Linked DNA regions of Homo sapiens. The protein of the gene in region 1 interacts with the protein of each later gene in a pairwise test. Each region holds a gene or a part of one and is shown on either strand. Other genes may lie near its edges. The genes, in order: ROPN1L and AKAP5.

Region 1 (3,820 bases):
TTGAATCAACCTTGACGATGCGTGGCAGGGAAAGCAGGATTTCAGGGACCTCAGGAGGTTTGAAATACATTGCTGGGGTGTGCCCCGCTCTGTCATCAATGCACAGTGAACGGTAAGGAAAGCACAGGCCAGCTGCCTGAGGCCAGAGACTACGCCCCCCCATACCTGCTTGTGCAAAACTTTCAGGAGTCCTTGAGTCAGGCCTGTGTCTGTTTTCTGGGTTGCCGTGGGCATTTCCATTCTGTCCTTTACAGGAAGTGGATCTCCTCTCGACAGAGCTGAAAAATAGCTAATAAATAACAGACATCTCTGAAAGCTCATCAATACACAAAAAACAGCTATGCGATCCAATTTCTTAAATAACCCCCCAAAACAACGGTGATTAGGAAGGACAGCTCTGAAGACCAACATCCCGGGCTTATGTCCTGGTTCCTCCACTTGGTTCTCTGACTTAACCTTCTCTGCCTGCCTTAGTTTCTCTGTTGGCAAAGGGGATAATGAGACTCCCTGTTGGAGGGTTGGGGAGCATTGTGTGAGAAGGGCTTGGCGCAGTGGCTGGCACTCGCAGAAGCTCCTTCAACATGTGTGATTCTTCCCCTCCTCCCTGCCACTTCACAATCAGCTGGAGTTCCATGTATTATTCTTTCTTTTTTTTTCCTAAATTTTTTGAGACAGGGTCTCACTCTGTCACCCAGGCTGGAGTGCAGTGGCATAATCATGGCTCACTGTAGCCTCAACCTCCCAAGCTCAAGGGATCCTCCCGCCTCAGCCTCCTGAGTAGCTGGGACTACAGGCACACACCACCACACCTGGCTAATCTTTTTAATTATTTCTTACAGAGATGTGGTCTTGTTCCATTGCCCATGCTGGTCTGGAACTCCTGGCCTCAAGTGATCCTCCCAGCTTGGCCTCCCAAAGTGCTGGGATTATAGGCGTGAGCCACTGTGCCTGGCCGTCTTCCCACTTTTGACAGGTGGGTTTGGTCTTGCTGCTTTTTGAGGTGCTTGACTTTAAGCGTCTCTGCATATTCAACCCTGAGGCAGCCCAGGAACACACAGGTCACCTACTTCCACACTGGGAATGGCAGGTGCTGGCCTGGCTCCCATCCCCCCACCCCCACTTTTCCTGCCTGGTATTGTTCCCCTTAATTGTTCCTTTCTGGGACACTGATATTGCTGCTTATGTTGGGGGCAAGAGTGGGAAACTGTTGGGGCAATAAGTCAAGAGGGAACCCACACCCAGCCTCTGGCTCGTGGTGGGAGGGGTGCCAGGCAAGACCTTCTGAGAAACTCACGCCCCTTGGTATCTTTGCCAGAGGTGGCGATGCTGAAGCCACATCATTTGGGGCCCTAATGACTTTAGCATGATGAAAAGAGACAGCATATCCAGGCAAATGAACATCAAAGCATCCACCAGGGCCACAGATAACAATTTTAAAGCCATGGGTAGTTAGAAACATTGCTACAGATAAATATGGATAAGTCGATATCTGATAGACTAAAATAAACTTCATATCTCATCCTTTCTCTCTCTTTACACCCCTCAAATTTGACTTTGTTTCCTTGCTTTGTAAGACAACTTCAGCTCCATTTTGTGGCTTTGTTAATGATTTGAAGGCAGCAGTGAGTTAGACAAATGTGAACCTAAAGACCTAAAGGGTGTGGGTGAAGAATAGGTGCCTCGTTTTGCCACATTCCTACTAATCAAGGTTTTCACCTATTTCATGGGGGTAACTCCTCATAACTCAGGCAAGGAATCCCGAGCTAGATACAGCCTCTGGAGGCAGAGTTCTCAGTGGGGGATAATGCTCCTCCTCTTTCCCCCACCCGCCACCCTCCTCCCCAGCCAAAAGGCATTTGGCAATTTCTGGAGACGCTTTTTTTTTTTTGAGATAGAGTCTCGTTCTGTGGCCTAGGCTGGAGTGCAGTAGCGCCATCTCAGCTCATTGCAACCTCCACCTCCCAGGTTCAAGCTATTCTCCGGCCTCAGCCTCCTGAGTAGCTGGGATTACACATGTGCATCACCAAGCCCAGCTGATTTTTTATATTTTATTAGAGACGGGGTTTCACCATGTTGCCCCCAGGGTGGTCTCAAACTCCTGAGCTCAGACAATCAACCCGCCTCAGCCTCCCAAAATGCTAGGATTACAGGCGTGAGCCACCGCACCCGGCCTGGAGACATTTTTGATTGTCACAACAGAGGGTGGATGGTACTCCAGGCATCCAGTGGGTGCAGGCCAGGAGGCTGCTAAGTCCCATCATGCACAAGATGCCCCTTCCTCCTGTGCCCTCCCCAACTGTCAGTAGGGCCGAGGCTGGAAATGCCTGCTTTTGAGGTGAGACCAACTAATGTTAGCCTCTGCCAGTTCCTTGAGGCACACGCCAACCAAAGCAGCCTCTATTACTTGACTGATTCTTATGTTCATTGTCCTGTGTGAGGCACAACTGCACAATGGTGTCATAAGGAACAGCCGACTCCCCTCACAGTGGAGTCCACAGGCTTAGGGGGAGGCTGGCTCATCTTTGATATTTGCCCACCTGAAAAGCACCTTTGAAAAGAACCCTAACCTGAGGAAAGAGGAATGCCTACTTGCTTCATCTTTTTTGTTTGTTTGTTTTTTCTTTTTTAGACAGGCTCTTGCTCTGTCACCCAGGCTGGAGTAGAGTGTTGTGAACATGGCTCACTGAAGCCTCCAACTCCTGGGCTCAAGTGATCCTTCTGCCTCAGCATCCTGAATAGCTGGGATTACAGACATGCATCACCATGGCCGGCTAATTTTATTTTTAGTACAGACAAGGTCTTGCCACGTTGTGCAGGCTGGTCTCGAGCTCCTGAGCTCAAGTAACCTGTCCGCCTCGTCCTCCCAAAATGTAGGGATTACAGGTGTGAGCCACCGTGCTCAGCCTACTTGCTTGTTCTATAGCAGTTATGTCCGTGGGTATCCTGGTTTCCTGTTTTGGTTTTGATGGTTTTTCTTTTTCCTGTCTCCACCCCCTTCTTCCTGTGCTGCTTCCTCTTCCTGGAATCCTCTCCACCCCACCCAAGCCCCAATCTCTCTGCCTACAAAATCTCTCAAGGACCAAGCCACTACTTTGCTTAACTTTCGTGACCCTTCATTTTTGCACTTACCAAGTCCCGCCTTACTCAAGTTACTTTTGAATAGCTCTCCCTAACAGATTCTGTCCTGTGACAGCTGAAACATATTTGAACCTACAATTACATATATACTGCCGAATGAATAATACCTGGGTTTTCTCCTAAACTCACAAATTGTTCTTGGTCAGGCGCGGTGGCTCAAGCCTATAATCCCACCACTTTGGGAGGCCAGGAGGGCAGATTACTTGAGGTCAGGAGTTCCAGACCAGCGTGGCCAACATGGTGAAACCCCCGTCTCTACTAAAAATACAAAAATTAGCTGGGCGTGGTGGCACGCACCTGTAATCCCAGCTACTTGGGAAGCTAAGGCAGAATTGCTTGAACCAGGAGGCAGAGGTTGCCGTGAGCCTAGATAGCACCAGTGCACTCCAGCCTGGGCCACAGAAAAAGACTCTATCTAAAAAATAAATAAATAAATGGCTCTTGAGAGAAATTAGTAGCATGGTACATTCGGAAAGTTCCTGATTAAGTCTCTTATTTATTTATTTATTTTTATGATGGAGTCTTGCTCTATCATCCAGGCTGGAGTGCAGTGGCACGATCTTGGCTCACTGCAACCTCTGCTTCCCGGTTTCAAACAATTCTCCTGCCTCAGCCTCCCATGTAACTGGGACTACAGATGCGTGCCACCACACCAAGCTAATTTTTGTATTTTTAGTAGAGA
Region 2 (3,572 bases), on another chromosome or scaffold:
CAAGAAATTAAAGAGAGAAATTACAAGCCATAGAGAAACTGGGCATTTCTATACTAGAGAAACCACCTAAAACAACTGTATGGAGTAAGATGAAAGGTATGAATATGCCTGGAAGAAATTTTACCTAGTGTGACATTTTTGCTCATCTTTTTGTCACAAAAGGCTGCTAAGGAAGAGAGAATACAGTTTTCTAGAGAATAAGAGTGCAGTGTAAAAATGGAAACCACAATTTCAGAAATTCATGTAGAAAACAAGGATGAGAAGAGATCAGCAGAAGGTAGTCCTGGGGCTGAAAGGCAGAAGGAAAAGGCATCCATGCTTTGCTTCAAGAGAAGAAAGAAAGCAGCCAAAGCACTGAAGCCCAAAGCTGGCTCTGAAGCTGCTGATGTGGCAAGGAAGTGTCCACAAGAAGCAGGAGCTTCTGATCAGCCAGAGCCCACACGGGGGGCCTGGGCCTCACTCAAACGTCTTGTAACACGCAGGAAAAGGTCAGAGTCTTCAAAGCAGCAAAAGCCATTGGAGGGTGAAATGCAACCTGCAATAAATGCTGAGGATGCTGATCTTTCTAAGAAAAAGGCAAAATCTAGACTTAAGATTCCCTGCATAAAATTCCCAAGAGGGCCAAAAAGGAGTAATCATTCCAAAATTATAGAAGACTCAGACTGCAGCATCAAAGTCCAGGAAGAAGCTGAAATTTTGGATATACAAACACAGACCCCATTGAATGATCAGGCAACAAAGGCTAAGTCAACCCAGGATCTAAGTGAAGGCATCTCACGGAAAGATGGTGATGAGGTCTGTGAATCAAATGTGAGCAATAGCACAACTTCTGGAGAGAAAGTGATTTCAGTAGAACTTGGATTAGATAATGGGCATTCTGCTATTCAAACGGGAACTCTAATCCTTGAAGAAATTGAAACGATCAAGGAAAAACAAGATGTTCAACCCCAGCAAGCAAGCCCACTTGAAACTTCAGAAACAGACCATCAGCAGCCAGTACTTTCTGATGTTCCTCCTTTACCTGCAATTCCAGATCAACAAATTGTGGAAGAAGCCAGTAACAGTACCCTAGAAAGTGCACCAAATGGAAAAGACTATGAAAGTACAGAGATTGTAGCTGAAGAAACTAAGCCAAAAGATACTGAATTGAGCCAAGAATCAGATTTTAAAGAAAATGGGATCACTGAAGAGAAATCCAAATCAGAAGAAAGCAAAAGAATGGAGCCAATTGCTATTATTATTACAGACACTGAAATCAGTGAATTTGATGTTACAAAATCTAAAAATGTCCCTAAGCAATTCTTAATTTCAGCTGAAAATGAGCAAGTAGGGGTTTTTGCTAATGATAATGGTTTTGAGGATAGAACTTCAGAACAATATGAAACACTCTTAATTGAAACAGCCTCTTCTCTAGTCAAGAATGCTATTCAGTTGTCAATAGAACAGCTGGTTAATGAAATGGCCTCTGATGATAATAAAATAAACAATCTTCTACAGTGACTTACTCTCCAGAGTCACGGCAGAAAAAACAAGCTTAATGAAGAATTCTTTTATACATTTGTGGCATTTCTTACTCAGTAACAAATGAGAGATTTATCATCTCTAGAACTTAAAAGGTACAATTCCAGCGCAGAAGTGCTAAAGATTAAGTCAAGTTTATAAAACTCTACCACTGAAATGCAGTCACTTCTGGATTGGAGGAAGTCAGCACAGATTGCAGTGTAAAATGACATAACATACAGGGAGTTGCTAAAATGGCATATGGAGATTGGAGTGCTTTGGGGGAGGAAGGTGTATTTATTGAGCACTTATGGTATGCCATAAGCTTTTTAATGACCTCTGATATAACAAAGTCTGGTTTCCTTTTGATAATTCAGCTCTGTGTATAGGCTAACATCACATTAAGTTTTTAAAAACTTATTTTTTACAGTGCACATATATGTTTAAAATGGTGAATAAGGTGAGCTACTTTTGTGAATGTGATTTGTAATTGTTACATTCCTAAGCAGCAGGCTTAACTCAAAAAATACATTGCATTTTCCCAATTTCAGCAGATAGTGTGCAGAATATGCATATTGATATTAAACGTGAGTGGTTTCCTAGTCTTAAGTCTCTTATAAGCGCTATTTGGCCAGGGGCAGTGGCTCACGCCTATAATCCCAGCACTTTGGGAGGCCAAGGCGGGTGGATCAGCTAAGGTCAGGAGTTCGAGACCAGCCTGGCCAATGTGGTGAAACCCCATCTCTACTGAAAATACAAAAATTAGCTGGGCGTGGTGGTGCACGCCTGTAATCCCAGCTACTTGGGAGGCTGAGGCAGGAGAATTGCTTGAACCCGAGAGGTGGAGGTTGCAGGGAGCCAAGATTGCACCACTGCACTCCAGTCTGGGCAACAGAGCGAGACTCCTTCTCAAAAAAAAAAAAAAAAAAAAAGAGAACCATTCACAAATCCTTCAATCAGGCAAATTGTTACTAAGTGCAAAAGTGTAGAAACAGGGAGAGTGGGTTTTTCCCCCGCTTTTCTTTCTGCCTCAACAGATCTGTATATATCCATTTCTGCATGGATTTATCTGTGAAAAGTTAAAAAATGAAACAGCAAAAACAAAACAAGGGGAATATTATTCTTCATCCAGGAGAAGGGAAAATTCCCAAGTAAATTATCACAGATAATATAGGATTCATCTTGCAGAATTACTTCTTTAAGAGCCATATTCATCAACTTCTCTCCAAAGAGGGGAGAGTAGATTCAAAGCCAGCCTGGTAGTAATGGTCCTGGAAAATCCTAATAATCTAGTGCAAATATTTATTCTCGGCCAAAAATGAGCCATGAATGTGGGTGAATAGAAAAGTGAAAAGTTATTGCTAAAGCACATTATAATTTAAATGTCAGTATTCCTTCATGTCTGTGTGTTGAGACCAGTAAAAAGCATTTTACATGAATATTGAAAGTTAACTTTTTCATCACTATTTTCTTTTCTTTTTTTTTTTTTTTTGAGATGGAGTCTCACTCTGTCGCCCAGGCTGGAGTGCAGTGGCGCGATCTTGGCTCACTGCAAGCTCCACCTCCTGGGTTCACACCATTCTTCTGCCTCAGCCTCCCAAGTAGCTGGGACTACAGGCGCCCACTACAACGCTCGGCTAATTTTTTGTATTTTTAGTAGAGATGGGGTTTCACCGTGTTAGCCAGGATGGTCTTGATCTCCTGACCTCATGATCCTCCCGCCTCGGCCTCCTAAAGTGCTGGGATTACAGGCATGAGCCACCGCACCCGGCCTTCATCACTATTTTCAATCCAGATATACTTTACAAAAATGAGAAGGGCTTATTTGCATTTTTATTTACATATTGAAAGGGAAGCATCTGATCTCATCAATGATTGCCATATTTTTTGAAAAAGTAATCCTATTTCAATCTTTCCTTGTGTGAAATGGCCATAATACCAGAGTGCACTTCCCTACCTCACAGGTTAGGATTCAAAGTGTGTATTCCCCCATTGTGTAAATTGAGTGATTGTGTTACTACTTGAAACAGATGAAGTAATAAAGATGAAGTATGAGATGTAAGGTATTTGTT

Evidence for each region.
Region 2: the proteins of ROPN1L (region 1) and AKAP5 interact in binary tests that used the Homo sapiens proteins (3 or more experiments, as listed by UniProt).

The regions. Positions count from the first base shown.
Region 1 is NC_000005.10:10,444,729-10,448,548, reverse strand, and holds part of ROPN1L (ropporin-1-like protein), read right to left. Parts: intron 290-3,820; coding exon 166-289; intron 1-165. UniProt on the Homo sapiens protein: Functions as part of axonemal radial spoke complexes that play an important part in the motility of sperm and cilia. Important for male fertility.
Region 2 is NC_000014.9:64,468,179-64,471,750, forward strand, and holds part of AKAP5 (A-kinase anchor protein 5), read left to right. Parts: 5' UTR 1-216; coding exon 217-1,500; 3' UTR 1,501-3,572. UniProt on the Homo sapiens protein: Multivalent scaffold protein that anchors the cAMP-dependent protein kinase/PKA to cytoskeletal and/or organelle-associated proteins, targeting the signal carried by cAMP to specific intracellular effectors.